Regions from separate parts of the Homo sapiens genome. Here region 2 is linked to region 1. Evidence: fine-mapped QTL for protein levels in blood plasma. Region 1 holds a variant in brackets. A gene starts in the other region. All regions are shown on their forward strands.

Evidence for each region. PIP is the chance, under the fine-mapping model, that this variant and not a neighbour inherited with it causes the effect. Protein levels are from antibody-based Olink assays in UK Biobank. Linkage for the fine-mapping came from a reference panel and not from the study's own genotypes, which makes the PIPs less certain.
Region 2: COL28A1 starts here. The variant in region 1 is fine-mapped to the plasma level of the COL28A1 protein (UK Biobank, PIP 0.99).

What each region holds. Positions count from the first base shown.
Region 1 is chr19:2,910,109-2,925,671 of GRCh38, forward strand. It overlaps ZNF57 (zinc finger protein 57), which reads left to right. Exons shown (of 4, transcript NM_173480.3): 2 at 5,414-5,540; 3 at 5,970-6,141; 4 at 6,816-8,365. The coding sequence ends at 8,181. Among named protein-coding and RNA genes, the nearest start is that of ZNF57, 17 kb to the left of the region's middle. The variant C/T (reference allele first, on the strand shown) is at 7,583.
Region 2 is chr7:7,528,558-7,544,120 of GRCh38, forward strand. COL28A1 (collagen type XXVIII alpha 1 chain) reads right to left here and starts at 7,316. Exons shown (of 35, transcript NM_001037763.3): 1 at 7,193-7,316; 2 at 4,195-4,355; 3 at 2,791-3,347. The coding sequence starts at 4,318.

The sequences.
Region 1 (15,563 bases):
ATAACTATTCACTTAGTTCTTTGATTTCTTCTGTCAGAGTTTTACAATTTTCCTAAGATCTTGTGCACATTTTGTTAGATTTATACCTGTATGTTTTATTTTAGGGCAATGCTGATTTAATTCCAGTATTGTCTAAGAGCATATGATGTACGATATTCTTTTAAACTTGTTAAGGTGTTTTATGTCCCAAAATACAGTCTAGGTTGAGGAGTGTTCCACGTGAGCTTGACAAGAATGTGTTTTCTGCTGTTGTTGAAGTTGTCTACAGACATTCATCATTGGGGGTGCTGTTGAATTCAACTCTGTGCTTATTGATGTTCCACGTGCTTGATCTGTTTCTTTTCTTTTCTTTTTTTTTTTTTTTTTTTTTGAGACAGAGTCTCACTCTGTTTCCCAGGCTGGAGTGCAGTGGCGCGATCTCTGCTCACTGCAAGCGCCGCCTCCTGGGTTCACGCCATTCTCCTGCCTCAGCCTCCCCAGCAGCTGGGACTACAGGTACTCCCCGCCATGCCCAGCTAATTTTTTGTATTTTTAGTAGAGACAGGGTTTCACCATGTTAGCCACGATGGTCTCAATCTCCTGACATCGTGATCTGCCCGCCTCGGCCTCCCGAAGTGTTGGGGTTACAGGCGTGAGCCAATGCGCCTGGCCTAATTTTTATATTTTTAGTAGAGACGGGGTTTCCCTGTGTTGGCCAGGATGGTCTCCATCTCCTGACGTCGTGATCCGCCCGCCTCGGCCTCCGGAAGTGCTGGGATGACGGGCGTGAGCCACCGGGCCCGGCCTGGTTACTGTTTTCTGTTTTTGTTGCCCTGGTTCGTTGTTCCTTATTTTGTCTTCCACTCTTTTTCTGCCTTTTTTGGTTTTGATTGCATGTTTTGTGTGATTCCATTTTTTCTCCTTTCTTAGCAAGTCAGGTATGCTTCTCTTTCCTTTTTTTAGTGATAGCCCTAGAGATATTTATTTATTTATTTGGCAGGGTCTTGCTCTATCAGCCAGGTTGGAGTGCAGTGGTACAATCATGGCTCACTGCAGCCTTAATCTCCTGGGCTCAAGCCATCCTGTTACCTCAGCTTCCCAAGTAGCTAGGACCACAGGGTATATGCCTCCAAGCCCAGCTTATTTTTAAAAACTTTTTGTGGCCGGGCACGGTGGCTCATGCCTGTAATCCCAGCACTCTGGGAGGCCGAGGTGGGTGGATCACCTGAGGTCAGGAGTTTGAGACCAGCCTGGCCAACATGGTGAAACCCTGTCTCTACAAAAATACCAAAAAAATTAGCTGGGCATGATGGCGGGTGCCTGTAATCCCAGCTGCTCGGGAGGCTGATGCGGGAGAATCTCCTGAACCCGAGAGGCAGAGGTTGCAGTGAACTGAGATTGTGTCATCGCACTCCAGCCTGGGCGACAGAGGGAGAGTCTGTCTCAAAAACAAAAAAAAACGACAACAAAAAAAACTTTGTAAAGACAGGGTGTCACTATGTTGCCCAGACTGGTCTTGAACTCCTGGCCTCAAGCAATCCTCCCGCCCCAGCCTCCCAAAATGCTGGCATTTCAGGCATGAGCCACCGCACCCAACCTAGAAGTTTTCATTACATGTCTTCAGGCTCAGAGTCTTTCCTCAGCCACACCCAGTCTACTCATGTGTCCATTAAAGTCATTCTCCATTTCTGTTACAGTGCTTTTCAAATCTCTCCCATGGCTTTTTCATTCTTAGGATTTCCACTTCTCAGCCTGTATTGCCTGTTTTTGCATGTTGTCTACTTTTTCCATTAGAGCACTTCACCTGTTAATCATACTTGTTTTAAATTCCCAGTCTGATAATTCCAATGTCCCTGCCATATATGAGGGGTTCTGCTTTATCTCTTCAAGCTCTGTCTTTTGCCTTTTAGTATGCCTTGTCATTTCTTTCTGGAAAGCCAGACGCAATGTACTGGGTGAAAGGCACTGAAGTAAATAGACCTTTAGTAACCCAGTGGTGAGATGTGGGCAGAGGGCAAGGATTCCCTGATCCTTTGATGACGTCTCAGTCTATTCTTGAGCCTGTGCCCCGCGACACTGAACTTCACAAGTGCTTCTCAGTTCTTCCTTCTCCTCTCACTTGGCGGGACAAGATGAATAGAGGAAGATGATGGGGGATACATCTCTTTCCACAGGTAATTTAGACACTGATGAAACCCCAACAGGTGAGGCTCTGATCAAATAGTTTTAAGGGAAAGGCCCGGTGAGAAAGAGCAGAAATATCTAGCCTATTTCAAAATCATTATTCTTCTCCTCTACAAGACTGGGCCCCCTGAGATTGCTAACTCAGACTTGGGCCCGCTGTGCCCCCAGCAATTCATCAGTTACAGCTCAGGGTTTCCCATCTAAGTAACGGTTCCCACAGAGGCTTCTGTTCATGGTTGCGTGTTCTGGTAAGTTATGACTCTCTGTATCCGCCTCTCTCTTCAGTTTGAGGGGGCAGAGCTTGCCTTGTGACATCAGTTCTCTGAAGGATGGAAGAAGAGCTTGTTGAGGTTTCAGTTTGTTCAGCTTTTTGTTACAAGGGAATAATAACTTCCAAGCTCCTTACATGCTGGACCAAAAACTAGAAGTCATTTAACTTTTAAAAAGAACTGCCACACTGTTTTCTTAATTGGTTGTACCATTTTACATTCCCACCAGCAATGTGTGAAGATTCCTGTTTCTCCATATCCTTGCCAAAACTTATTTTCTTTTTTAGTTTTTTATTTTACCCATCCTAGTGGGTGAGAAGTGGTATCTCCTTTTTGTTTTGATTTGCATTTCTTTGATGACTAATTACTGACAATGTTTATTTTTCTTGGAGAAATGTCTATTTACATCCTTTCCCCACTTTTTTGTTGTTGAGACTGAGTCTTGCCCTGTCACCCAGGCTGGAGTGCAATGGTGCGATCTCGGCTCACTGCAACCTCTGCCTCCTGGGTTCAAGCGATTCTCCCTCCTCAGCCTCCTGAGTAGCTGGGATTACAGGCATCCGCCACCACGCCCAGCTAATTTTTGTGTTTTTAGTAGAGACGGGGTTTCACCATATTGGCTCAGCTGGTCTCAAACTGCTGACCTTGTGATCCACCCACCTCTAAAGTGCTGAGATGACAGGTGTGAGCCACTGTGCCTGGCTGCTAAATCAGTTTTGTTTGATCTTTTCAAACAACTAGCTTTGGTTTCATTGATTTTTCTCTATTGTTTTACTGTTCTCTATTTCATTAATTTGCCTGTAATATTTATTATTTCCTTACTCCTAATTGCTTAGGTTTAGTTTTATTTTCCTATTGTGTCGAGGTGGACCACGTTAGGTTGTTGATTTGCAATCTTTAGGATAGGTATTTATAGCTATTAACTTCCTTTATATAAGTTTTGGTATATTATGTCTTTATTTTACATCCATCTCGAAGTATTTCCCTTTTGATTTCTCTTTGATCCATTAGTTATGGAGGAGTGTGTTAATATCCACATATTAGTGAATTTGCCAAATTTTCTGTATTAGTTTCAGATTTCATTTCTCATTCCATTGTGGTCAGAGAACATACTTATTTCTGGTTTTTTTTTTGGTGGGGGGAGACTAACTCTCACTCTGTCAGTGATGTGATCAGAGCTCACTGCAACTTCTGTCTTCAAGCAGTTCTCGTGCCTCACCCTCCCAAGTAGCTGGGAATCCACGTGTGTGCCACCATACCCAGCAAATTTTTGCATTTTTAGTAGAGACAGGGTCTCACTATGTTGCCCAGGCTGGTCTCGAACACCTGAGCTCCAGCGATCCATCTGCCTTGATCTCCCAAAATCCTGGGATTACAGGCGTGAGCCACCGCGCCCGGCCAATATTTTGTATTTCTATTGTTTAAAATGTGTTGAGGTTTCTTCTATGGCCTAGCAAAGGGTCTCTTTTACAGAACGTTCTTCTGCACTTGAGAAGAATGTGTGTTTTGCTGTTGTTGGGTTCAGTGTTCTGCAGATGTCTGCTATGTCTAAATGACTTATAGTGTTCAATTATTTTATTTCCTCGTATTTCACCTAGATGTTCTCTCATTAAAAAGTGGGGTAATTGATGATGCTGTGCTCAACTAAAAAAGAAAAAAGAATGGGTGTTTATGTTTCAACTTGTATTTTTAATTATCCATTTCTTTTATTTTTATTTATTTTTTTGAGTCTTGCTCTGTCACCTAGGCTAGAGTGACATTCTTGGCTGGAGAGCACAATCTTGGCTCACCGCAACCTCCACCTCCTGGGTTCAAGTGATTCTCCTGCCTCAGCCTCCTGAGTAGCTAGGATTACAGGCACGCACCACCATGCCCAGCAAAATTTGTATTTTTAGCAGAGACGGGGGTTTCTCCATGTTGGTCAGGCTGGTCTCAAACTCCCGACCTCAGGTGATCTGCCTGCCTCGGCCTCCCAAAGTGCTGGGATTACAGGCGTGAGCCACTGCACCCGGCCACTACTTTCATTTTCATTAAGTATTTTCTAATGAAACCTTTCAGTTGTTTAACTTTTTACTGTTTGTTGGTCTCTTTAGGGGTTACTGTATTGTCAATGCGAGGCTTATCAGATGAGCTTCGGGTTTATATTCATCGCTCGATTCCAGTGAGATACAGAAATGCTGCGTGTGTAGCTCTATTCCTTCCTGCCCCTCCAACTTCTATGGCAATATGAATACATGCTACATCCATGAATATTATATGCCAAAACAGTGCGTTTTAATTAGTACTTTACCATCTGTAGTCATGTCCCTTTGCTTAAATATGCCTTTGCTCCCTCCCACCCTCCTCCTCTGTGCTGTTATTGGCAAATAGGTATTCTTATGTGTTATACATCCAACAGTGCTTTCCAAACATATTCATACAGTTGCCTTTAAAATAATTTAAGAAAATAAAGGGGAATAAAGGGGGAAAACGGATACAATGTTGCCTAGGGCTCCAGGCAGACAAAGACAGGAATTCTTAAGTCACATTGTTAGAAACTCCCTGGCCAGCCTCAGGCCCGTCCATACAAAGATCCCCTCACCAGGCAGGGGATTCCAAGGACTTACCATTTTCTGCAGTAGCTGGTGGAAGGCTTTTCCGAAAGTCCTATGAAATGTGCATCGTTTGGACAACCGAGGCCTGCTGCGTTATGCAACGTTTCAAATGGAAAAGTTACTTCATTTGCATAGCATTTCTCTAGACCCTCCTGGTAGAGGAAAATAAGAGCAGTCGCAGTAAAAAGGCAGAGATAAGTTCAGACTGATAGTGGTGCCATGAAGTTTACTAGGAAGTGATTGTGAATAAGTAAAAGATCTAACATTCGCGTCATAGAGGAGGTGTTGGGACACCACAGAATCTTGTTTGAATTTATGAATTGAGTCCAGTTCCCCAGTACTTTCAGTGTCTCCAATCCTCCTGCACACCTGTGTGGTTTGTCTTAGGACTCAGTGGTCTTTGAGGATGTGGCTGTGGACTTCACCCTGGAGGAGTGGGCTTTGCTGGATTCTGCTCAGAGGGACCTCTACAGAGATGTGATGCTGGAGACCTTCCGGAACCTGGCCTCAGTAGGTGAGGATGGCATCATTCCTTCCCTTGGTTTTTAATGAACTCATTTCTTTCTCATCAGTTCTGTTGCAAGATGTGAAATGTGGGAAAGGACTAAGACAGACATGTTCACAGCCACCATGGACCTAGAATCTAGTCATTATTCCCTAACAGTGAAAACATGTGTGAAACAGATGTTATTTCTGTCTTGGTTTAAAGGACTTGAAGTTCCTTTAGTGTCATTAGTAGGGGTATAGATTTCACTGGTCATTTAGGATCACAGAGTGGTTCCTTGTTTGATACCTGTGACTTACTGTGTTTGTGAAATACCTAACATTTTGACCCCTTATGTCTGTTATTGATGAGGTCCTCAAAATGCTAAACTCCTCAGTGTCTTCCTTTGCTTAATACGTGTCTTATTCCTTTTGAGATTTGTTTACTTTTTTGTTGCAGATGATGGGACTCAATTTAAAGCCAATGGGTCAGTTTCTCTGCAGGATATGTACGGGCAAGAAAAATCTAAGGAACAGACAATACCAAACTTCACAGGAAATAATTCCTGTGCCTACACTTTAGAAAAAAATTGTGAAGGCTATGGCACTGAAGACCACCACAAAAATCTGAGGTGAGTTGCACTCACAAGAGAAAAATCCTTGTATGCAATTAAATATATATCTAAGTATTGCTCCAAATATAAGCATTGCTCCAAATTTGTTTATTCCTCAGAATTTTAACCAAAAAAAAAAATTTGTATTTGACTAAGACATTGAGAATTTGAAACATAATTGTTAGAAGTAATTACAGGGGGCCGGGCGCGATGGCTCACGCCTGTAATCCCAGCACTTTGGGAGGCTGAGGCAGGCGGATCACGAGGTCAGGAGATCAAGACCATTCTGGCTAACATGGTGAAAACCCGCCTCTACTAAAAATACCAAAAAAAAAATAGCCGAGCGTGGTGGCAGGCACCTGTAGTCCCAGCTACCTGTGAGGCGGAGGCAGGAGAATGCTGTGAACCTGGGAGGCAGAGCTTGCAGTGAGCTGAGATTGCGCCACTGCACTCCAGCCTGGGTGACAGAGTGAGACTCCATCTCAAAAAATAAATAAATAAAAAGAAATTACAGGAAAACCCCATATATAATAAATACTGCATTAAAAAATATGTCTCTTCAAACAATTCAGAATAGAAAAACTTCACGTATACTGAAATGTAGTTAGACATTATTTCTAATACTTGTTAATACATCTCAACACATCATTACTAAACATACCATACATAAAAATGTCTCTCATTTTTAACAGAAATCATATGGTGGACAGATTCTGTACACATAATGAAGGTAATCAATATGGAGAAGCCATCCATCAAATGCCAGATCTTACCCTGCACAAGAAAGTTTCTGCTGGAGAAAAACCATATGAATGCACCAAGTGCAGGACAGTCTTCACGCATCTTTCTTCTCTTAAAAGGCACGTCAAGTCTCACTGTGGACGAAAAGCACCTCCAGGTGAGGAATGTAAGCAGGCCTGCATTTGTCCCTCACACCTACACAGTCACGGAAGAACTGACACTGAGGAGAAGCCGTATAAGTGTCAAGCATGTGGGCAAACTTTCCAACATCCTCGTTACCTCTCCCACCACGTAAAGACTCACACAGCAGAGAAAACCTACAAATGCGAGCAGTGTCGGATGGCGTTTAATGGGTTCGCAAGCTTCACTAGACATGTGAGAACTCACACAAAAGACAGGCCATATAAATGTCAGGAATGTGGGAGAGCCTTCATTTATCCCTCGACATTTCAAAGACACATGACAACACACACTGGAGAGAAGCCCTATAAATGTCAGCACTGTGGGAAAGCCTTCACTTACCCCCAGGCTTTTCAAAGACATGAGAAGACGCACACGGGAGAGAAGCCCTATGAATGCAAGCAGTGTGGGAAAACATTCAGTTGGTCTGAAACCTTGCGAGTCCACATGAGGATCCACACTGGGGACAAACTCTATAAATGTGAACACTGTGGGAAGGCTTTTACCTCTTCCAGATCATTCCAAGGTCATTTGAGGA[C/T]GCACACTGGAGAGAAACCTTATGAGTGTAAACAATGTGGGAAAGCCTTCACTTGGTCCTCAACGTTTAGAGAACATGTGAGAATTCACACGCAAGAGCAGCTCTATAAATGTGAACAATGTGGGAAGGCTTTTACCTCTTCCAGATCATTCCGAGGTCATTTGAGGACGCACACTGGAGAGAAGCCTTATGAGTGTAAACAATGTGGAAAAACCTTCACTTGGTCCTCAACGTTTAGAGAACATGTGAGAATTCACACGCAAGAGCAGCTCCATAAATGTGAACACTGTGGGAAGGCCTTTACCTCTTCCAGAGCATTCCAAGGTCATTTGAGGATGCACACTGGAGAGAAGCCTTATGAGTGTAAACAATGTGGAAAAACCTTCACTTGGTCCTCAACCTTACATAATCATGTGAGGATGCACACTGGAGAGAAACCTCACAAATGTAAACAATGTGGGATGTCCTTCAAGTGGCACTCCTCCTTCCGGAACCATCTGAGGATGCACACAGGACAGAAATCCCACGAATGTCAGTCATACTCAAAAGCCTTCAGTTGCCAAGTCATTCTTTCTAAAACCAGTGAGAGCACACACTAAAGAGAAATTCTATAACTTTAATGGGGTAACCTCACATTAATTCATGTATAATGCTCCAGAAAATTCACACCAGGAGAGAAATCTTACAAGTATGATATTGTCTTTGTCAATACCTCATTTGTAAAACAGACCCATTAGTCGTGAATTTCCAGCTCTTTCAAAAATAAATGTTTATGTGAGAAAATAATTCTCTAAGTCCTCTTTCAGCTATAGTACCTAAGTTTTAATAGTTAAGTGTTTTGTCTCTTAAATATTTTCATTTCGAACTGTATTAGACCCATGGTGATTTGAAGCATACTTTGAACATGACACAATTTTTTTTTTTATTTTTTTTTTGAGACAGTCTTGCTCTGTCACCCAGGCTGGGGTGCAGTGGTGCGATCTCCACTCACTGCAAGCTCCGCCTCCCAAGTTCACGCCATTCTCCTGCCTCAGCCTCCCAAGTAGCTGGGACTACAGCCACCTGCCACCACGCCTGGCTAATTTTTTGTATTTTTAGTAGAGATGGGGTTTCACCGTGTTAGCCAGGATGGTCTCGATCTCCTGACCTCATGGTCTGCCCACCTTGGCCTCCCAAAGTGCTGGGATTACAGGCGTGAGCCACCATGCCCGGCCAAACATGACATAATTTTTATAGTTTCTATATTTTTCTGTATGGGATCATTACAACAATAAAACTTTGGTATTTCTTACTGGCCTACTGCTACAGATAGTGGATATCACTTACCTATTTTATATATTGTACCTTACCAAATTTTTTTTTGCAAAACCTGGTAAATATGCAGAGTTCTCTATAAAGTATAGTCTCTAATCATCTTTTGCAATTTGTTTTTCCTCATTTCTCACTGGGAGTTAGACAGCAGCCTTTGAATTAGGAATGGGGACCTACAAAACAAGAATGAAATCTGTAGATGGTTTTGTTACGGATATATGTGTAAGGCTGGGAACGACATTTCCCTGAATGTCTTTCCTTTATGGCACCAAGTTAAAATCTGCTGATTTTCTACTGTGCATGAGGTTTGGCAGTCAGGACTAGAGAAGTCATTACCCGCTTTGTAGAGCCAGCATACTCAGAGACATAAAGGTGGCACACAGGCGCACCATGCACACAGCCTTCTGGATCATTGTACTCATTCCTGCCACTGTTAATGAAGAGTGTCTCTACAACAGACACCAGCTGCCTAACTTTCAGCCAGACATCTCCATGAGCTCTCCCAACATGAAGACATTTAGTGTGGATTGCTACAACACCTGCCACGTCCACCAGGCCACTGATTCTGACTGTCGTGGTGATCATCTCTGAAGCTAACTCCCTCCTTTAGGTCTTACCTTATTTTTATTTTATTTATTTATTTTTGAGACATAGTCTTGCTGTGTTGCCCAAGCTGAAGTGCAGTGGTGTGATCTCGGCTCACAACCTCTGCGCCTCCCGGGTTCAAGCGATTCTCCTGCCTCAGCCTCCCAAGTAGCTGAGACTACAGGTATGCACCACCATGCCCCGCTAACTTTTGTATTTTCAGTAGAGACAGGGTTTCACTATGTTGGCCGGGCTGGTCTTGAACTCCGGACCTCGTGATCCACCTGCCTTGGCCTCCCAAAGTGCTGGGATTACAGGTGTGAGCCACCGTGCCCAGCCCAGGTCTTACCTTATTTTTATACTAAACATTTTCTTTTGTTCTCTTAGTACTGCTTATGGTTCTGTGTGCAGACACAACCATGACAGCCTATGCACCAGCCAAAAAGCGCGCACACACACGTTTGATCGTGTACAGCATCGCTGAATGACTACTTAGTCCATGTAAGAATAATCACCTCTCATATCAGGCAGACTGGTGGAGTTTCCTATTACTCAGAGCCGAGTGCAACCCTTCAGTATATGTTCAATACTATGTTTAATTATATGCTATTAAGAACAAGACACTTTTTGTCAAATTCCTCTGTAGTGGTTTCTTAGATTTTATCAACCATGTTCAGATAAATTATATAATAACAAATATTTTTACTCTGAAGATATAAATATTCCATTGCAATTATGGAATATGAAATCAACTTTGTAATTCTGTCAGTTTAGGCACTATCTATTAGCATTCCCAGATGTGTACCAGCTCATGCACTCTTCTTAAAGGTCAATTTTTCATATACTTAAAACTTTTGACATTAACATAAATTCTTTTTTTTTTTTTTGAGATGGAGTCTCACTCTGTCGCCCAGGCTGGAGTGCAGTAGGGTGATCTCGGCTCACTGCAAGCTCCGCCTTTGGGTTCACGCCATTCTCCTGTCTCAGCCTCCCGAGTAGCTGGGACTACAGGTGCCCGCCACCACGCCCAGCTAATTTTTTTGTATTTTTAGTAGAGATGGGGTTTCACCGTGTTAGCCAGGATGGTCTCGATCTCCTGACCTCGTGATCCACCCGCCTCAGCCTCCCAAAGTGCTGGGATTACAGGCGTGAGCCACCACACCCGGCACTTCTACCCTGACAATCTTAACCAAAGAACTACTCAGGGCTGTTTAAATGGTGGGGAGCAATAGATACACAGGTGTGCATTGTTGGAGTTAACAGTAATGACTCCCCGTAACAATAAACACGGGTATGCTTCAGCTTCATTTTTGCAATGGTTTAAACTTTTAGGCCATGTGATATGCGGCCATGAATTTGAACATGATTGTCACTGATCAGAGGGTTCCCATTTGATGTGGACCACAGAGCATCTTACCTACACAAGTTGTAAGTTGAGTGTTAGCCTAGCTCCTGCTGCAGCAGGTCCCTCCCCCAGCCTCCTGCATTCCAACCTGGGTGCCGGGTGACATCCAACATCTGACGGCTATGATGTTAAGGCTACAAATGCTGCATTTGATACTGGGGGCACAATTGCCATTATTTTATAAAGGGGGGGCCTTCATAAAAGCCCGGGCGCGGTGGCTCACGCCTGGAATCCCAGCGCTTTGGGAAGCCGAGGCGGGCAGATCACGAGGTCAGGAGATTGAGACCCCAGTGAAACCCTGTCTCTAGTAAAAATACAAAAAATTAGCCGGGCGTGGTGGCGGGCGCCTGTAGTCCCAGCTACTCGGGAGGCTGAGGCAGGAGAATGGCGTGAACCCGGGAGATGGAGCTTGCAGTGAGCCGAGATCGCACCACTGCACTCCAGCCCGGGCGACAGAGCGAGACTCTGTCTTTAAAAAATAAAAAAGCCTTTGTATGGCAAGGCTCGCCAGGCCAGGTGGCTGACGCCCGTAAATCCCAACACTTTGGGACGCCAAGGCAGGCAGATCACTTGAGGTAAGGAGTTTGAGATCAGCCTGGCCAACGTGGTGAAACCCCGTCTTTACTTAAAAAATACAAAAATTGGCTGGGCGCAGTGACTGATGCCTGTAATCCCAGTTTCTCAGGAGGCTGAGGCTAGGAGAATTGCTTGAACCCGGGAGGCGGAGGTTGCAGTGAGCTGAGATCACACCACTGCACTCCAGCCTGGGCGACAGAACAAGACTCTGTCTCAAAAATAAATAAAAATAAAAGCCTTTGTCGTATGTGGCTCTTGCATCTGAATGTTAAAAATTGACATAAAACATTAAATTTTTGAAATTTCATAAATAGTAGAGGGTTCATCTTATACGGAGAATGACTGCATGGCAAACGTGATTGCTGCCAAAAGCTGGAGTTTGGTAAGGGCATAGCCAGGCACTGTGACCTCCACCCATTCCTGACACTGGGCTCTTGACCCCCCACCTGGGGGATGCCTCACTGCTGATGGCTTGTGTTTGGCTTTCTGGATTCACTGCAGTTTGTAACAGTGGATGGACAGTTTGACCCTGCTTCCCTCACCATCTCCTGGTACACACAACTTAGTAAGGTACTTATCCCTCGGAAACAGACATCTTTTCTGAGCTGCTCACTGGATAAATGATCAGGACAAAAGGGATGGGAGGTTACGTAAAGCCATCTTGAAATTTTTTTGATAATTTCATATTTTATCACAACCAATTTTTAAACCTGTGTCTTTGAGTAAATAGCATTAAAAGGTTTTTCTGTGGAAAAACTGTTCCTATTCCATACAACCCTTCCAGAAGAAAGGTCTGGATAACACTAAAGGATGATTTTTTTAAATGTAAAATGATTGCCCAATGGGACACAGTGACTTTGTAACAGGAGGAAATATCCAAAAGCATCTGAGGAGGTGGCTGGAGGAGGGCAGAGGCGAGTGTTCATCTTATTTTTCAGAATCTTTCCTGCAACTTTTTCCTTCCTCCTGAAGGAAAACCCTCTGTGCTGCTTTCCAAAGTCCCGTGAGTTCTTTTTATTTTATTTTATTTATTTTTTTGAGACAGAGTTTCACTCTTGTTGCCCAGGCTGGAGTGCAATGGCGTGATCCTGGCTTACTGCAACCTCCACCTCCTGGGTTCAAGCGATTCTCCTGCCTTGGCGTTCCAGGTAGCTGAGACTACAGGCATGCGCCACCATCCTCGGCTAATTTTGTATTTTGAGTAGAGATGAAGTTTCACCATGTTGGTCAGGCTCGTCTCAACCTCCTGACCTCAGGTGATCCACCTGCCTCAGCTTCCCAAAGTGCTGGGATTACAGGCGTGAGCCAATGTGCCCGCCCAGTAAGTTCTTTGAACGCAAACTGACTGCTGAGCCTAGACCACCCTGACACGCCGTGAGGGAGCCACCCAGCTGCTATTCCTGCCCTGCAGAACACCCTTAGGGCCACAGTGGTGAAAGTGATGATCTGTGGTCATAGACAAGCAAACCATGTGGAACTGACTGCCTCAGGCAGTCCCTCTGAAATCGGGGACTCAACTAACCTCATTGGACAGGACTGAGAATTCTCCCTACAGGGGGAGTCCGCGCTGAGTGTCTGTTAACCTTCACTGCTGACTAATGGATGTCTTGCTTAGGTTGCCCTGACAATTGTAAACTCAGTTTCCGGCAGTACCTTGTGTGTCCTGTGGGACTGTAATCAGGTGTGGAACCTATTGCAACACCGTCTGAGCTGTGGAAGCTTCAAATTACTGGCAAGAGTTCTGCTCTACCACACACTTGGTAAGTTAGGACAGGTAAAAAGGATTCATACACAAGTTTAAGGAGGAAGCCAGGTGGCTTTCTAAAATAGACCTTTATTTTAACTAAGTCCGAAACCCCTAAAGGGCATAGCTGGAATCATTCCTGCAAGCTCATTACCCCCATGCTGTGACGGTCTTACTGATGATTATTTTGTTGTAAAGCAGGGGCCAATAGGCTGCACTGCAAAAAACTTAGCAAAACAGGCCTGAGTGCTATCCCTTGAAAGGCCCGTTTACAAGGTCAGCTGTGTCAAAATTGCACAAGCAATATGGTTTATGCAAAACACCATTCATTCCAGGCATCTGGAATCTTGGTATTTGCCAAGCAGTGAGTGCATCATAACCAGCTGGCAATAAAAAAAAACCCTGGCAGAGTATCTATTGAGCTTCTCAGGTTGGTAAATAGTCACACATGCTGTTACAATTAGTTTCCCGGGCAGTAAAAGCATCTTGTACGCTGCCAACCAGGGAGGACCCTTGGAAGCTCATTCCTGGTTTCCCCGACTTCACCCCATGTGCCTCATCCCTTTGCTAATAGTTGGCTCTGTTTCCTTGCACTGTAATAAGTCTTAGCTGTAAGGCTGACTATATGCCAGTTCCCTTCAGTACCCCTAACAAATCACTGAACCACTGGGGGTGGCCTTGAGGCCCCCCAGTACACTTGACATCCTGAAACTGGGAAATTTTAAAGGCATTTTCATAAGAGTGGATGGAAGTTTTGTGTTTTAATAATCTGCAAAGCTCAAAAAGCCCATTTTGCTTTTCAAAGATATGATTTTCATAAGTTTGCACTTCCACCAAATGGGCTCACAGGAAAGAGAAGAAAATGTAATAGCTTTCTGTGTGCGTGTGGTGGGGGGCGTTGTTTCTTTGTAGAGATGAGGTCTCACTATGTTGACCAGGCTGGTCTGGAACTCCTGGACTCAAGTAATCCTCCTGCCTCAGCCTCCCAAAGCTCTGGGATTAAAGTTGAGAGCCACCACCCCTGGCCAATAGCTTTGCATTTTGTTAATGAGGAAAGCAAATGAAATTCTGTCAATTTCTCGATGTTAAGTACTGCAGAGATTAATATGACTTACCATCTCATTGCACCTCCTGTTCCCAGCTTCCCTCCCATCATACAAATGAAGAAAGTTAAGCACAAGGAACACAGAATCTTAACCTTAACTCACATATCTTGATGTAAACATAGTAATTTAACCTCTCAGTTTTGAAGGCCTGTTATCTGCCACCTCTTATACTTAGCTCTGTCGATTGTTTTTTTTTTTTTTTTTCCAGACGGAGCTTCGCTCTTGTTGCCCAGGCTGGAGTGCAATGGCGCGATCTCGGCTCACCGCAACGTCTGCCTCCTGGGTTCAAGCGATTCTCCTGCCTCAGCCTCCTGAGTAGCTGGGATTACAGGCATGCCCGGCCAACTTTTTGTATTTTTAGTAGAGACGGGGTTTCTCCGTATTGGTCAGGCTGGTCTCCAACTCCTGACCTCAGGTGATCCGCCCACCTCGGCCTCCCAAAAATGCTGGGATTACAGGTGTGAGCCACTGTGCCCAGCCTGTCAAATGTTTTTAAACTGAAAATTCTACAAGACAATAATAGGCTGGGCGCCATGGCTCACACCTGTAAACCCAGCACTTCGGGAGGCCAAAGTGGGAGGATTGCTTGAGCTCAGGAGTTCGAGGCCAGCCTGGGCAACATAAGGAGACCTTGTCTCTACTAAAAAAATTTTTTTTAATTAGCAAGGCATGGTGCTGCATGCCTGGAGTCCCAGCTACCGGGGAGGCTGAGGCGGGAGGATCACTTAAGCCCAGACGTTTGAGGCAGCAGTGAGCTATGACTGTGCCCCTCCCACTCCAGCCTAGGTGACAGGATGTGACCCTTGTCTCAATCAATCAATAAATGACAAGTATAATTAGCTAATTTTACAAATATGGCATCGAATTTTACAAACAGGGCTCAAAAGGCTACATATTTCACGTAACATGACATTCTGGAAAAGGCAAAGATACAGGTGGCTAAAGCAGATCAGTGGTTAGGGGTGAAAGGTTGAGTACAATTGGGCAATCCAAGAGTATTTGGGGAGTGATAGAATGTTCTCTGTTTTGGTGGTGTAAATATGCATTTATGAAAACTCATAGAAATACGCTTAAAATAGTCTTACTGTATGTATATTAAAAATAATCAACAACAACAAACCGCTTTCGCTTACTAAGAGAAAATGTAAACTCTCCTGAACTTTGAAAACATGCAATGTGGCTGGGCGCGGTGGATCACGCCTGTAATCCCAGCATTTTGGGAGGCCGAGGTGGGCGGATCACGTGAGGTCAGGA
Region 2 (15,563 bases), not on the chromosome of region 1:
AATAAAAGGGAGTAAACTTCTGATACAGAAAAAAACCCTGATGAGTTTGAAAATCATTATACTGGGTACAAGAAGCCTGACACAAAAATAATACATACTATTTGAGTTTGTATAAAATTCTAGAAAGTATACACTAATCTAGAGTCACAAAAGTAAGATCAGTAGCTCAGGAGCAAATGGGGTCTTACAAAGAGATATGAGGCAATTTGGGGAGGTGATGGAAATGTTCTCTATCCTAATTGTGTTGGTAGTTTCATAGGTGTGTACCTATGTCAAAAGCTCATGGAATTGTGCCCTTTAAGTTAATGCAGTTGTGTACTTAAATCATACCTAATTAACTTATTTAAAAAGTCAACTACATAATTATTTTAAAATAAAAAGTTTAAAAATTCAACTAAAGATGTAATAGAAAGGGATTAGATAAAGAATTTTTCCAATGGTCTCATCAAGAGTCAAGTTCTGGGCCCGGCGCGATGGCTCACACCTGTAATCCCAACACTTTGGGAGGCCGAGGCGGGCAGATCACCTGAGGTCAGGAGTTTGAGAACAGCCTGGCCATCTCTACTCAAAAATACAAAAAAATGAGCCGGGCATGGTGGCAGGCGCCTGTAATGCCAGCTACTTGAGAAACTAAGGCAGGAGAATCGCTTGAACCCGGGAGGCAGAGTTTGCAGTGAACCAAGATCGTGCCACTGCACTCCAGCCTGGGTGACAGGAGCAAAACTCTGTCTCAAAAAAAAAAAAAAAAAGAGTCAAGTTCTGCCTTCTAGATGGTGGCAATTTGTAACATTGAAAGTTGGTATACCATTCTTTGAAGAGCCTAATAAGCACTTTGGATCCTGTAAGTGTTTGGAAAGCAGCACCTCCTTCTAAAAAGTGGTTTATTCATGGAGCTTCCATCTGAACAAACAAGCTGAAATCACAGATGCTAAACAAACAAGCTGAAGTCGCCGGATGCTAAGGAAGAGCAGTATTCAGTCATTTTCTGTTTGCCCAGGAACAGACAAACAATTTTGCTTCCAGTCTACTGCCAAGAGCCTGTGTTCTCAGTGAAGCAGGTGCTCTCAGCGAGGGTGTATCTGGTGGGAATATGAACAACCTGAGCCTACACCTGTGGCCAAACAAGGAGCTGCCTGTCCCGCATCTTCTATGGTCAGCTCTTATCCATCTTAAGGTGAAGATGAATAAGTAACAACAGCCCACTCATGACCACATCACCAGGATTCTCTCCCACACGGGCTGGAGCCCTCTGTTTTATGTTCAGTGGTGAGGACCCCTTAAGTCATGGCACAGGCAGGGCTAAGTGTTAGCCAGGAACCACTACAAATTTCCCTTTCATGCAAAAGAGCTGCTCAGAATGAGTACTTACCTTGAGCACCACAGGACTGGGCCCATCAGCTCTATCTCTGATCTAGGCATAACTCTCCCATTTACCCCGAATCCCCAAGGAAAAAAAGGCTAGAAACAATAGTAACTTTGGAGGAGGGCTGCTACCAAACTGTTTCAGAGCAGTTCTGATTGAGAAAATATTTTTTTAAAAAGCAGTTACTATTTCCTCTCTCAATATGCCTTTATAGGGTTAAGCATGCAAACTGTGAGGTCTTCACCGGCCTTAAATTTTCAACTACAAAATGGGTATAATAACATTACCTACATCATAAGATTGTGGCAAACATTGAATAAAATAAAATATATAAAGTGTTCAGGAAAATGCCTAATACAGAGAGAGTACTCAATACCTAAGAGCTATTATTTAGGTAAGAAAACCTCAGATCTTATGCTGAAAGCAACAGAGAGTAAAAAGATAAGAGTAATGTTGAGAAAAAGATCGAGGGATAAGACAAAAGGAGCAAAACAATCTCTGAAATAGAGCCTGAGTTTTCTGTGCAAGCTGTAGAAAACAGCCATATGAAACGCTCAGTACATAAAGGACACCTTTGCCTTCCTTTCTCAGGAAATCAAAGAAATCCAAGTTTTTAAGAAAATCAGTTTTTAACACTCAGCCAATCAACCAATTTATCTCTAGGCGTTTTCTCCTTGAGAAATATTGTGAAGAGGGATTTCCTTTTGATTGTGGTGCCGTGTGTTTTACAAAGCAGCAAGGAAAGGCTTTTATACACAGCTGAGCAACAAACAAAGAAAAGCTGACCAGACCTATCAAGTGGGACTCATTGATTTGATGGGAGAAACTGTTGCTTGACTGCAGGTTGCAGATGATTTTAAATTGGATGGGCTTGAGAACATCTAAGAAAGAAGGAGGTAATTTTAAAAATTGGAAGTCTATGAACTTTGAGTAGCATAATGTAACAATAGGTGAGACAGAGTCAAAAATACTCAGTCCTTTAGAAGAGTAAGAGAGAATATGTCAAGATTATGTCAAAAATACCTGTACAGATGTGGAATGGGAAAAGACCAACTTGGTACAAATATAGCCTAACACCTCAAGTTGAGCACAACCTGAATATAAGTCAGCAATGTTCATGATTGTAGGCTGTATAAACAGGAGCTTAAGGTATATGATTGGAAAATAACCCCTTCCAAAATCCTCAGCATCAGCTAGCAATAAAGTTAAAAATGCAATTCCAGGGAATTAGCCTGGAACTTTTCCAGATTGTCTGGAGTAAACTGCCAAGAAAGTGGAGTGACACTTCAGAAAGATTCTTCTTTCTGTTTTCAGTGTTAACTCTCATTTTCTCCATCTTTTTGACCCAGTATCTCTTCTTATGGGATTTACAACAAATATGTCAATATTATGATGATAACTGTATAATCAACCCATTAGGTACCTACCAGACGATCTTGAATTTTATCTACAAGGGTTGGATCACTCAACAGTAAAGTGGGTTCACTGGATGAATCCCCAGAAATCAAACGAAGTTTGGCTTCATTGACTACCGTAGAAAGTGCAATGGTGATAAATGATATTCCTGAAATTCTGGCATCTTCAGAAATACTTTGAACATCTGGATTCTTTGGATGGTCGATGCCATCAGTCATCAGCAAAACCACTTTCACACCATCCTTACGCCCTTCTCTCTTAAGTAGCCTAGTGGCATTGGAAATGGCATAATAAGAGAAGGTACCTTGCCCTATTAAATTCATAGACTTGACCTTCTGCTTAAATGTCTGCAGGTCCTTCCAGGAAGAAAAAGGTGGATCAATTTGGACAGAGCTGCTAAACTGAAGGGCTGCCAGTTTGATGTCATATTCCAAGGAGCGACCAGGAGTCAATTGGAAAATCTTGTCACTCAAGCTATCCACAAAATCTTTCTGTTTATCAAAGAGGGCAATTTTAGAACTTTCAGAGCTGTCCACGATGAAGACAATATCTATGAAACAAATGGAGCCTGAAACAGAATAAACAGGTTAGGCAAAATAATTATTCCTATCATGAAACAAATTTGCATACGGAAAGCCCTGAAGTGGTGTGTTGTATATTGTTTGGTGTTGAGAGCAGCGTGAGGAGAGAAAGAGAGACACGTTGGACAGAAGGCTTCAATTGTAAAAAACTAAATGTCTAAGTTTATGAATTATTTTCTCCTTGTAAAATCATGCAAATTAAAAATAAATAAGATATCTTTTATTCTGAGCATCTTTTCAATGTTAAACCTGCTGAAAGTGGGAGGAAATGGGAAGTCAAGATGCATCACATTTTAAAAATCCAACTAACACTGAGCATAGTTGTCTAGAAGTAAATGATACTCTAATTCTCAGGTTGTGTCATATTGGTGAGTCCCTATTTTTTTTTAAACTTTCTTGAAATCAAGGGAGAAAATGACTATACCCCCTATACCAAGAGTAAGTGGAGAAGAAACCTAACTTAAACACAACTTAAGTTTAAATCCCAGCTCTGTGTCTCAGTGGTTAATTTGCCTATGGCCTTGAGTATGCCACTCGACCTGTTAAGACCTCAATTTTTTTAATCTACACTATGAGTGGCAATCTCCGTCCTGCCTATTTTACAAGGTTACTGTGAGGCTCAAATGAGATAATAAGTGCACAAGTGCTCTTATTAAAGACTCTGATGTGCTATAAGTATGTAAGGTATATTATCATCATATAATTTTATCAAAGTAGACTATCACATGTATACATGTATATGGCTTGCTATTTATATCAAATGCTATTTAGAAAAATTCACATAAGTATTTTTAACAGGCTAAACTTAAAAACAAACAATTTTTTTTTTTTTACCCTGGACATCACTTTTCCTTGCAAGCAAATTTGATTTTGGTCCTTTCTTTCTTTGTCCGGATACTGTTTGACTCGTAAACGCTGACAAAAGCAGGAGATAGAAGACAAAATATCTGTTCCACATTATGGTAGATGGTGAAAAATCATCTGTCTTGTAGCACCTTTAATAGAAAAGTCAGTTACAAATACTTTAATAAAATATGGTGTTTGTTATTTTTAAATTTCAAGCCAGCAGGGTTGAAAACTGGCATGTGACTGGAAAAAAGAGGTTTTCATTCATATTTCTAGAAAAATATTCACATTGAGATTTTGAAAGATTTCAATCCAAATAAATCATGGCACCATGACCAAACATTTATTAGTGAATATTTCTATATATTCAAAGAACTATATTTAAGTATTCTTAATTCCGCATTGTATTTTGAGGAGCATAGAGTTGGGAGAGCCATTTAAAAACATTTCAATCCCGCTCTATATGATTACTGTGGTTCAATCACAGGGTCTGCTTTGACATTTCCAAATTCTTCAGGGGGAATTCAGATTGCTATATGGTCATTTCATTCACTTTCATTATAACTGATTCCTGACAAATCTAGTATTTTGTAGAACTGTAGACAACCACCACCCTTTCAGGCTTAATACTACACACATAACTTCAGTGAGTTCAGAGGTCAAGGTAAAAATTAAACGACCCTTCTGTTTCCATAGAACCCCATCTCTCTTTTCTACCCTAGCTTTGGAAACTTTGTCTCCACCAGGGGTTCAAAGCTGCATATGCAATGAATCAAAAGAGTATGAGAGCAAAAATAATAGATTTGCTTAAAAGCAACACTCTTCTTCCAGTGATGGCTAAAAGAACTAATGGACAGAAACGGGACTTAAAGCCAAGAAGCACCCCCTCTGAATAGCCCCGTGAAACTATTTTTCTGGGTGGATTAACAACGAAAAATCTAATTCTGTATTAAAATCCTCAATCTTCATCAGTCAATATGCCTAGCTACACACCAACTGACTCTTAAACTGACAGATTTCCCTGGGAGGAGAAGACTCATGTGTTGCTGCCTCAGTATACCCAAGAGAATGGGAACGAGAAAGCTTATTTCGAATCAATACTTAGTATGGCTTAAAAATGCTTGCCTGCTGAAACTTTATTGACTTCAGGAGTTCTGGAAAAGGAATCACATTTTCCTTCTTTGGCACCTTGCCTTTAGGGGATAAGAATCTGGGAAATCATGAGCACGATTTTTCCAGACTCTGAGTAGAGAGTGGAAATATATGCAAAGGCAGTGAGGAGTGAGATGGAGACTGACTTTTTTCATACATGCCAGATGGATAAACCCCAAAGGGAAACAAAACTGTTGGGTTAGGAGAGGACCAATGGATGGCTTCATGCCACAGTCTGCTCCTCACATAGCATCATCCAGCTGGAAGTGTATTAAAAGAACTTTGGATAGGTATGACCAAACATCTTGTGTAGCAATTGGCCAAATGCCAACTGATCCTCAGACAAGGTATACTAAAATGTAAAGACAGCTGGGTATTAAAAACAAAACAAAACCAAGAAATGTGCTAAGGAAACAGAACACACAAAGGCCATCTCTCCTCAAGTTGTCCCTTTGCTAACCAAGGAAAAAAATAAATGATGTACAACTTTAAGTCTGAAGGTTAGTGTAAAGATAAGGCTATGTGAAAAACACAGTTGTTATTGCATTTTCAAAGGGGAAAGGGAATAACACCATGGCCATGGTATTACATATGACTTTTCTCTTTGGTTGAGTTCATACCATAAGGAACATCTCAGAAGTTCTGGAAATAAGAGGCTGAGAACTGAATTCCATTGAGAACTGAGCAAGATTTTATAAGCAACATAATCAAGCAACTCTTCAAAACCCTTCATGTAAGGTTTTAGAAATACTGGCTTTAAATAAAGATTTATCTTTTCCCAAAACTAAGCACCTGCTCTTACTGTTTTCTTGGCATATAATCATGAATTTGTACCTGATCCCTGTATATATGATATTCACAAACATAACTTTTCCATTGACAATAATCCCAGTATCTCATATTTTGTTCTTATTTGCTCTGACATTGTTAATCTAGCTCTCCCAAACCAAAGTCTTGTTATTTCTTTCTGTTTCCCTATTGTAGCCAGAGGACATTTTCATACCTCTCTAGATTTGTTTCTCTAGCTTGTTAGTTCTACTGCTTCCCTGAAATATCTTTCTCGTTTATTAATTTGGCATCTTGAGAGCCCACTCATTTCTAATCACTTTTTACCATGTTTTATTTTGCCTCTGTTTTTAATAATTCTCACCTTTCTCTCTTTCTGATGTCACGTACAAGCAAAATAGGTTTCAGAGGAAACAGTGCCATTAGTTAAGTGAAAGAAATGTGAACCTCTGTGTTTACTATAGGTTACATTTTATAAATGCAGAAACAATCATAATTATTAATCAAATACCGTAGTTTTACTTTTGGCCTAAAATTTATTTGGGGTAAATATCAGGATCAGTAAATAAATCCAAGATACTTTATTTTTTATAATTTTTCAAAAATAAAATGATCTTATATCAGAGTTCACCAACTTTAGTTACAATGTTTGCATCTCAGTTTCTACACAAATAGAAAATGATTGAATAAAGACTTTATTCAAATTGACAAATTAGCCAAGTTGTAAAGTATTCTATAACTAATTCTGAATTGTAAACCCTGTTCCAAATTAAGAAAAAGATGTCCTAAAATATATTAACATCGTTGTAAAACAATTTAGAAGACTGTAAATTAAAAATCCATTTCAAAATAATTTTAAGTTTTAAATTTCTACATTTTAACAATGTTAATATTTTTCTAATAATTGATTTGAAGTAATTGCAGAGAATACAAACTATTGACAAGCTTTCTCACCTAATAATTATGTAAGTAAGTCATTTAGTCTTCCACAGTTCCTTGATGGTCCTATCTGATTTCAAGTGACTAAAATAAATCTGTTATGTCTTACCTTATAAAGTTTGTCAAACAGGAATTAAAGACTAGTTGAGTAAATGCCAACAGCAAGGACTGTGGTTGGGGGTGAAGTTAGCTATTTGATATTGTTCTGTTCTGTGGGAAATAAAAGTGTCTTTGCTTTAGGATCTTTTGCAGTCTTTTGTTCATGTTTATTCGACTAAGTCAAAGCAAGAGTGGTCAGGCATTTGGCCAGGGTGCAAGATCTGGGTGGGATCAGTAAGCAATTTAAAGGAACAGTGTCCTTTCAGAATGAGACTGTGTTTTCCAGACTATTGTAAAAACAACTTGAGAGAACTTTCTACATTTTAGGCATTGGTTGACAGCCTGCCTTTTTTTCTCATGCTATGTCCTTCTCTTTTTATTGCTACATTTCTTTGCCTGGGGGATGTGCTCTAAGATACTGGTTCTGAACATCTCTGTGAAGGAGTATAAATGACACCAGACTCAGAATCAAAGCTGTTTTTTTAAGAGAGGTAACAGTTTGATTGTTATTAAAGCTGGATGATGAGTACATAGGTGTGCATTGTTCTAGTCTTTGTATTTCTGTGATTTTTGAAATTTTTTATAATAAAAGGTATATATAATATACAGGGAAAGAGTGGTCTGAGTATAGTCATAGTTCTGCCCCTAACTTTTATGGGGGCTTCAGTTCCCCACTTATGAAATGAGAGAGTAGATTTAATCATTTATTAAGATGTGTTCGAACTGTAACATGAGAGGTTTACAGCGGTTAATATTTTGGTCTCTCTCTAGGAAAGGATCACTGTGGTTTTTCCACTCCCTGTTTCCCTATTTTCTACCTTGTGGTTATGGTCCATATTAAGTCAATGTTTATCATGTAATATATACTGCCAAGAAGCCACCTGACCCCTAGACAGCTAACAGGCAGGCTTCTCCACGGACTTCCTCTGAAATAGAGAATAGCAAGATCATCCGAGAAAGCAATACAAATGTGCATGTTACGGTTATTTAAAATGAACTTTCTTAGCCATTTTAATGTGTATGAATTTCCTTATTACAGCAATAATAGCCTCCAATTCATGGACACTTACCAGGTGCTAGGCACTGTCCTGAGTGCTTCACACACATTACCTCATTTAATCCTTCACAAGCACAACCACCTATATACAGTAAGTCCTCACTTAATGTCCTCTGTAGGTTCTGGAAACTGTGACATAAAGTGAAACAATTGATAATGAAGACAATTTTCCCAAGAGCTAATTGATATAAATAAGAGTTAAGCTCTTATGGCATATTCCTAGTCACAAAAACATCACTAAACCTCTAAATACTCAAAACACCTCTAATAATAAACATTGAAATAAATCTAAGCTATATATACATTTATGAAAGATTGATAAAAACAAGATAACTGCTTACCTGCATATTCCAGTTCAGGGTCACGGTTGACCAGATCCTGTCCCAGCAGCTGAGGATACAAGGCAGGAACCAGCCCTGGACAGGATGCAGTACTGTCAAAGGGCACTCATACACCCACCCACTCTCTCAGACAGGCACCATGTAGACACACCAATGCATCTAATGGGCAAAGCTTTGGGATGTGGGAGGAAACTCCAGGACCTGGAGAAAACCCACACAGACATGGGGAAAACATGTCAACTCCACACAGTGAGCCTGGCCCAGGAATTGAATTTTTTTTCTCATCAATGTTATAACAAAATGACATTGAACAAAATATTATTCCAGGACCCCTTGTACTTAGTAGATGTTGTAAGAATTCGAATTTTTCCAAGATGGAGGCAGAGAGAGGTTCAGTAACTTGTCCGCTGTCATACTAAAACCAGAGAATGGCAAAATGAACTTTTAACTCAGGCTGGTAAGACCTGTGAGCCTCACTTATAACAACTACTGCATCATTAAGTATCTATGCGAACGTCTGTGTTTTCACTGTCTCCTCCTCACAAAACAGGTTTCGAGGAACTGAGGAAGTTTTGTGAGGCTTTGGTAACAGAAAGAAGAAACGGTGGGTATAATGCAGAAATAACAACGGAATTTCCTAGGGAACAACCATGTATTTACCTGATAGCCTATGGGTGTTAGTCACACTTTTTACTTTTGTAAGATGAGAATCAAGAGACAAGGAAGTAGCATCTTTTCAGGTCAACTCTCTTTTTGCTGAGGCAGGTTAAAAACATGCAGAATAATAATGCCACTAAGAAGCAAACAGGTGATTCCTAGATGGGGGAAATGGACTAAAGCCCTCCTGCCTTGGAGCTGTTTTGATTAAAGTTGGTGGGAGGTTGGAGTCCAACTTAGTCATCCATTCCCTTTCATTCTCCAACATTAAATAGGGTAACTCAAACCAAAGATTTGCCACCTCTCATTCTCAAGCGTGAAAATCAGCACTAAATTAATTGGGAAGATTATGCAAAATAAAATCTTCAGTTTCATCAATCTATAAAAGACAATTAGTTTTGCACCCAGAGAAACAATGCACCACAATCTTAATCCCAACAGATGGTCTTGAATTAGTATGCTATTGGACTTACACCAGAACAAATAAGAGAGCATGGATAACCATAATGACTAGAAAAAGGCAACGTGGAGCCCATGCCCTTCTGACAGTTATTTTGTAGTAAAAGTCTTTATGGAAGAAATATAGCACACTATTTTCATTGTTACTACTATAAATAGCCCAGAGTAAGCAGTCATATTTGTGAAATAAATGATTATTAGAAGTAATTTTTAGTGTTTATCAGTCACTTGAGGTCTGTGATACAATAAATTGCTCTTCTCCAAAGCTCTGCTAGATGAAAATCTTTTTTCAACTTTTTCAAATTCTTTTAATATGCTACCATAGTAGCATCTGCATTGTGTTTATTGATTCTAGTACCAGTGCCAACATCTTAATTTCAGTGGTGATGATATTTTGGGGTCCTAGAATCATTTAAAAAGAGACAAGTCTGCTAGGACTTACATATTTCAGAGAATTGTATCTGCATGAAGTCATAGAAATACACACAAAAAAAGGCTGGTAACAAATCAAAGTTATATATTTTGACCAAGATTAAGGCATAGTATAGTTTCACAAGCTTCTCCCTATTTTAGCCACCTCCCACACTGCTGATCTAGAGTAGAAAAAAAAAAACATTACCAACTAACAAGGAAGAAATTAATGACCTTCGTACCTGATTTGAAGAAATTTGTTCTTGAAGATCCTTTCCTTTCTTTCTTTCTTTTTTTCTTTTTCTTTCTTTCTTTCTCTTTCTTCTTTTTGTCAGTAGAAAAGCTTGATATAGTAGAATTTCTAACACCTGCCCCAAAGCTCTGAAATTTCTGGGATTCATTATCCTTGGACCCAGAATATGACCTAGGCATTCTCTCAACTCCTTCATCAGTAATTAGAGGAACACTGTCTTAGTCCATTTTGTGTTGCTATAAAGGAATACCTAAGGCTGAGTAATCTATAAAGAAAAGAGGTTTATTTGGCTTACAATTCTGCAGTCTATGCAAGAAGCATGACACCAGCATCTGCTTCTGGTGAGGGCCATTGACTGCTTCTACTCATGGCAGAAGGTGAAAGGGGACCAGCGTGTGCAGATCATATGGTAAGAGGGAGCAAGAGAGCAGGGAGAGAGGTGTCAGACTCTTTTAAAGAATCAGCTCCCCCAGGAACTAATACAGAGAGAACACACTCATTACCGCAAGGATGGCATTAAGTCATTCATAAGGGATCCACCCACATGACCCAAACGTTTCCCATCAGGCCCCACTTCCAACAGTGGGGATGAAATTTCAACACGAGGTTTGGAGGGGGCAAATATGCAAACCATGGCAAACACCAAAACTGTATTGGTCTTATTTGTCAACAAAGGGAAAGATTAAAAGCATTCAAAGACAATAAGAAAATAAAAATTATCATTGGTAATAAAATACAGGATGTGGCATTGCTTAAATGTGGAACAGCGTGACTTCAGTTCCTATGCCCTCACCAAATTCTGATTGAGTTGATCCTTCCACATTCCCTCTACTATTTTTCAATTGTTACTATTATTTAATAAACTTTATGGTTTAGAGCAGTTTCGGGGTACAGCAACACGGACTCAATTATCTTTTATATCGTTTACTCCCTAAGATCTCTTGCTTCATTATTTGTCATTCAATCCCCAGCTTGAATAATTGTGTCACATTTGCAACACACAGTGCCTCATAGGCTACAGTGACAGGCTAAATTCCCGTTATACCAATCTTATGACTATTAATCTCTTTCTCTAAAATATTTTTTCAATATTAATATTTCTTCTTTCCATGTTGTTTATTCCTGACTAAATGCAATTATTTTAGACCAAAAATAAATCAAGGTGCCATCTGGAAAGTTTTACAATTTTTTTTCTAAGAAATATCTGAAAGTAGATTGATCTAGTCCTATCATAGGTTTGAATGTTCAATATTTTTCTTTAATTATTTTCTTTGGTCAATGGATAGAGCAGTTTTAACTTTTTCATGCAGAGCCTACAAATAGAGAAAGATCAGATCTATTTATACCTTGACTAAACTCTGCTTTAAATGGCAAAATATTTCTATTTTTCACTTAGTTCATTTTACTTTCAGATATTAGACAGTGTTATTCTAGATCTTGGTGAATTATTTGATAACCACTGATTGGTATTTAAACTTTTCTTGTATTGGGGACAAACAATAGTGTTAAATCTCTGAACTGGAAGGAAACTTAGAAACCACTTTTATTTAATTCTGCCATTTCACAGTTGATAAAATAGAGGACAGATATTAAGACCCACCCAAAGGTCAAATCATTAATCAGTGAGGGACTAAAATTTAGGTCTTTGTGCATCAAAGTGGCCATCTTTCATTATCTCTAAATGCCCTAGAAAATTTTTAGGCCTTTGCGCTATCCAGGCTTGTGCTTGAGCAGGAGAAAAAGGAAGCTGTATGGCTAATAATTTATATTTATAAGGATTTAACTTTAGTGGCAAATGGCTCAGAACAAATCATCATGGGCTAAGTCCCAGCACATTAAAGAGTCTCACCTCTCACTGTGTAAATCTTAGTGCCTGGGCCATTAAAGGCAATGAACACCACCTCTTCGAACCCTGGGTTGAAAAACTTTCTCCTCCAGGTTTGGACAGGTTTATCTGAGTAGCTGGGGATTGTTACAGCTACTTCAATAACTGATCCCTAATCAAAACATAGCCAGTAATATAGGTAGATATCATCATTTGCATGAATATTAAGTTGTAGAAACACAATACCTACTTGGGTTTTCTGGTCAGTGTATTGAGATTTAATAAGAATATCCAAAAAAAGTTTTAAAATAACTCTTCTAAATTTCTGGAATAAAAGTGTTTTAAGAGCATTAAGTAACTTATTATCCCATGTTATATTAAGCCGTTACAATGCTGGTTTACACAACATTGTTCCCAGTTAAGGTAATAGGGTCATCTGTTTTTTTCATTGCATCTAAATTATATAGTTCCTCCTGCACAACAGTTTGTTTCTCCTTCTGCCCTTAGAAATTCTATACTAAGGGTAAATTATTCATGGACAAAATTTATAGAAAAGGGGACTTGAGGTGAATTTTTTTTTTCCTATTTGGGGATATGAACAACCTTTTAATAATACTAAATTCTACACAGAAATAAAGTACCTATTATCATTATTCATTGTTTATATCCAGAACTATAGATTTTGAAATCACATATATAATGTTATTTAATGTTGAGTAACTTTTACTTAATTATATATTTTCTGTTATTCTAATTGACCAAATTCAGAAATGCCAAATACTAACACAATTTAGTCAGGACTCTGCATGGGTCTTCAGGAAGTGTTGTTTGAAAAAAGATATTTGGGCACCACCTTGTGGGACTTTGTAGAAAGACATAGTGTGAGAGTTTGTCAACTATTGTTAACAGATGAAAAATTTTAATCGTCTGTGATGCTGAACGGGTGGAATAAAAGTTGCTTTCTACAGCTTTTTTGGGCAGAAGAATGAGGAGACGAACGAAAGAGTGATAAAACTACTCTTATATAGGATCAAGAAGCTCTCTAAGTAACATCTGATGAAATCCATAACTCATTCACTTAACTAACATCAACTTAGTTTCTACTATATGTGAGGCACTGGATAGAAAACAGATAGATGCAGTCACTTCAACCCAGTGAAGAAAATAAGCAAGTAAAGAGCAATGGCAAGTTTTACCCAAAAAAAAAAAAAATTAAGTAATCACATATCTAACTCTAGTTGACAATACCATGCTGCAGGGTTTGGGAACAAAATTTACCAGTGTCTGCAACTTACTTTGAAATGCATCATAAAGAAAGAAGATGGGGCTGGGTGCGGTGGCTCACGCCTGTAATCCCAGCACTTTGGGAGGCCGAGGCGGGCAGATCACAAGGTCAGGAGATCAAGGCCATCCTGGCCAACATAGTGAAACCCCGTCTCTACTAAAAATACAAAAATTAGCTGGGCGTGGTGGTGCATGCCTGTAATCCCAGCCACTCAGGAGGCTGAGGCAGGAGAATTGCTTGAACCAGTGCGCTGAGATGGCACCACTGCACTCCGGCCTGGCCACAGAGTGAGATCCCATCTAAAAAAAGAAAGAAAAAGAGAAGAAAAGAGACGGGTAGAAGAATGGGTAGATGGGTAGATTATGCAATAGAGCAAATATGTTCATTGTAAATACAATTGTGAAATCTGGGTGGCAGGTAATGGGTTTGCTGTATAATTCTGTTAACTTTTCTGTATGTTTGACAATTTTCATAACAAAATATTAGGCCAAAAAGAGCAAGAGCAATATAGTGTGATAACATCTATAAAAGAGACTTACACAGAGGGCACCCAGGTCAGACTGTGATATGGAAGTTGGAAGTGCAGGAGCAGAGGATAAACAGTGGTTTCTTTTATGCCATGTTAAAGGGTTTAAACTTTATCTTGAAAGCAACGGGAGCCACTGAACAATTTTAAGCAGGGTTGTGACATGATCACACTTTCATGCTAGGAAAATCACTCTGATTGCTGTGTGAATAATGGCAGGAAAACAAGCTTGGAGGCTGAGATCTACTAGGAAACTTACTATGACACCAATGAGAGATAAGGCTCTCAAGTACCAGCAATGAGAATGCAAAGTGAAGAAGTCTAAGAAATATTAAGAAGCAGAATCAAAGAGCTTAGTACCTAATTGGCCTAGGAAAGTGGAAGAAATGAAGGAGAAAGATGGTACCCAGCAGTCTGCCAAAAAGTATTTAATAACTGTCTCTCTGGGGAAAAAAGTGTATTGTACACATATACATACGTAAGTTTATCAGAAATGTTATTGATAAAGAACGTATGGTATAAAATTTTCAAATAATAATAAAATACACAATATTCTCTATTATAAATTCTATATAGCAAACTGATTCATACAGATTGCTTTCATTGATTTTTGGCCAAATTCTTATATCTTTAGCCAATCTATGGTTGTAATTGATGAATGAGTATAGTTCCAACAAGAATGTTGGTTGGCATTTTCCTCTTCTTGAACAAGTAAGACAAAAATGAAACAAAGAAAAAGGTGCATGTGCATTGAAACTTCATTTGTTTGTCAATGATATAAGCAACTTTGTAGCTGAATAATATAATACTTTTCAAATACTGAAACATTTTCTTAGTTTTTTTCTTATTCAACTGTTACAGATAAAATACACTTTTGAGTTTAATCTGCATTATTGTTTTCTCCATCACTTTCTTTGGCCTAGACAATAAATAAGACAGTAATTCAAGCCCTAATTTGTAGCAGATTTCTATTGTGTAAAAAGTCCTACTATGTCAGATTTCAAATTACTAATGTGACATCACTGAACACAGGGTTGCAAAGAGAAACACAAATATATAGCAGCATACCACTATGCAGGATTTCCATCATATAGTTGCCATGGATGCAAACAACTTCAAGTACACACACAATAGTAAGATTTAGTAAATAATTAGGAAGTAATGAGTTTTGAGTATTTATTACTATTGTTTTTAATGTAATTTATTTACTTGTAAGTTAAATATATAATACAACATTTAATAATATCTGCGGTTAACAACTGGCTCAAAAAATTTCTGGAAATTTAGCAGTTGACCCTCACAAGGTGACATGAGCCATCTTCAGCACACCAGAGACTATACCTAACTTCCAGGCTGTGCGGTGCGCTCTTGCCTCTTAAAAGAGTACAGCACACAGGTCTGAGAATTGGTTCTGCCACTTTTTGACGCTGGACCTGTAAGTTCTGAAAGCCTTACACAGTTTCCACATCCGCAAGTGAAGACTATGAGGAGGAGCCCAATAAAAATAAGGATAGCAACAGCAGCATCCGAATCAACAACAAAAATAACACCTCTCTCACAGTGTTGT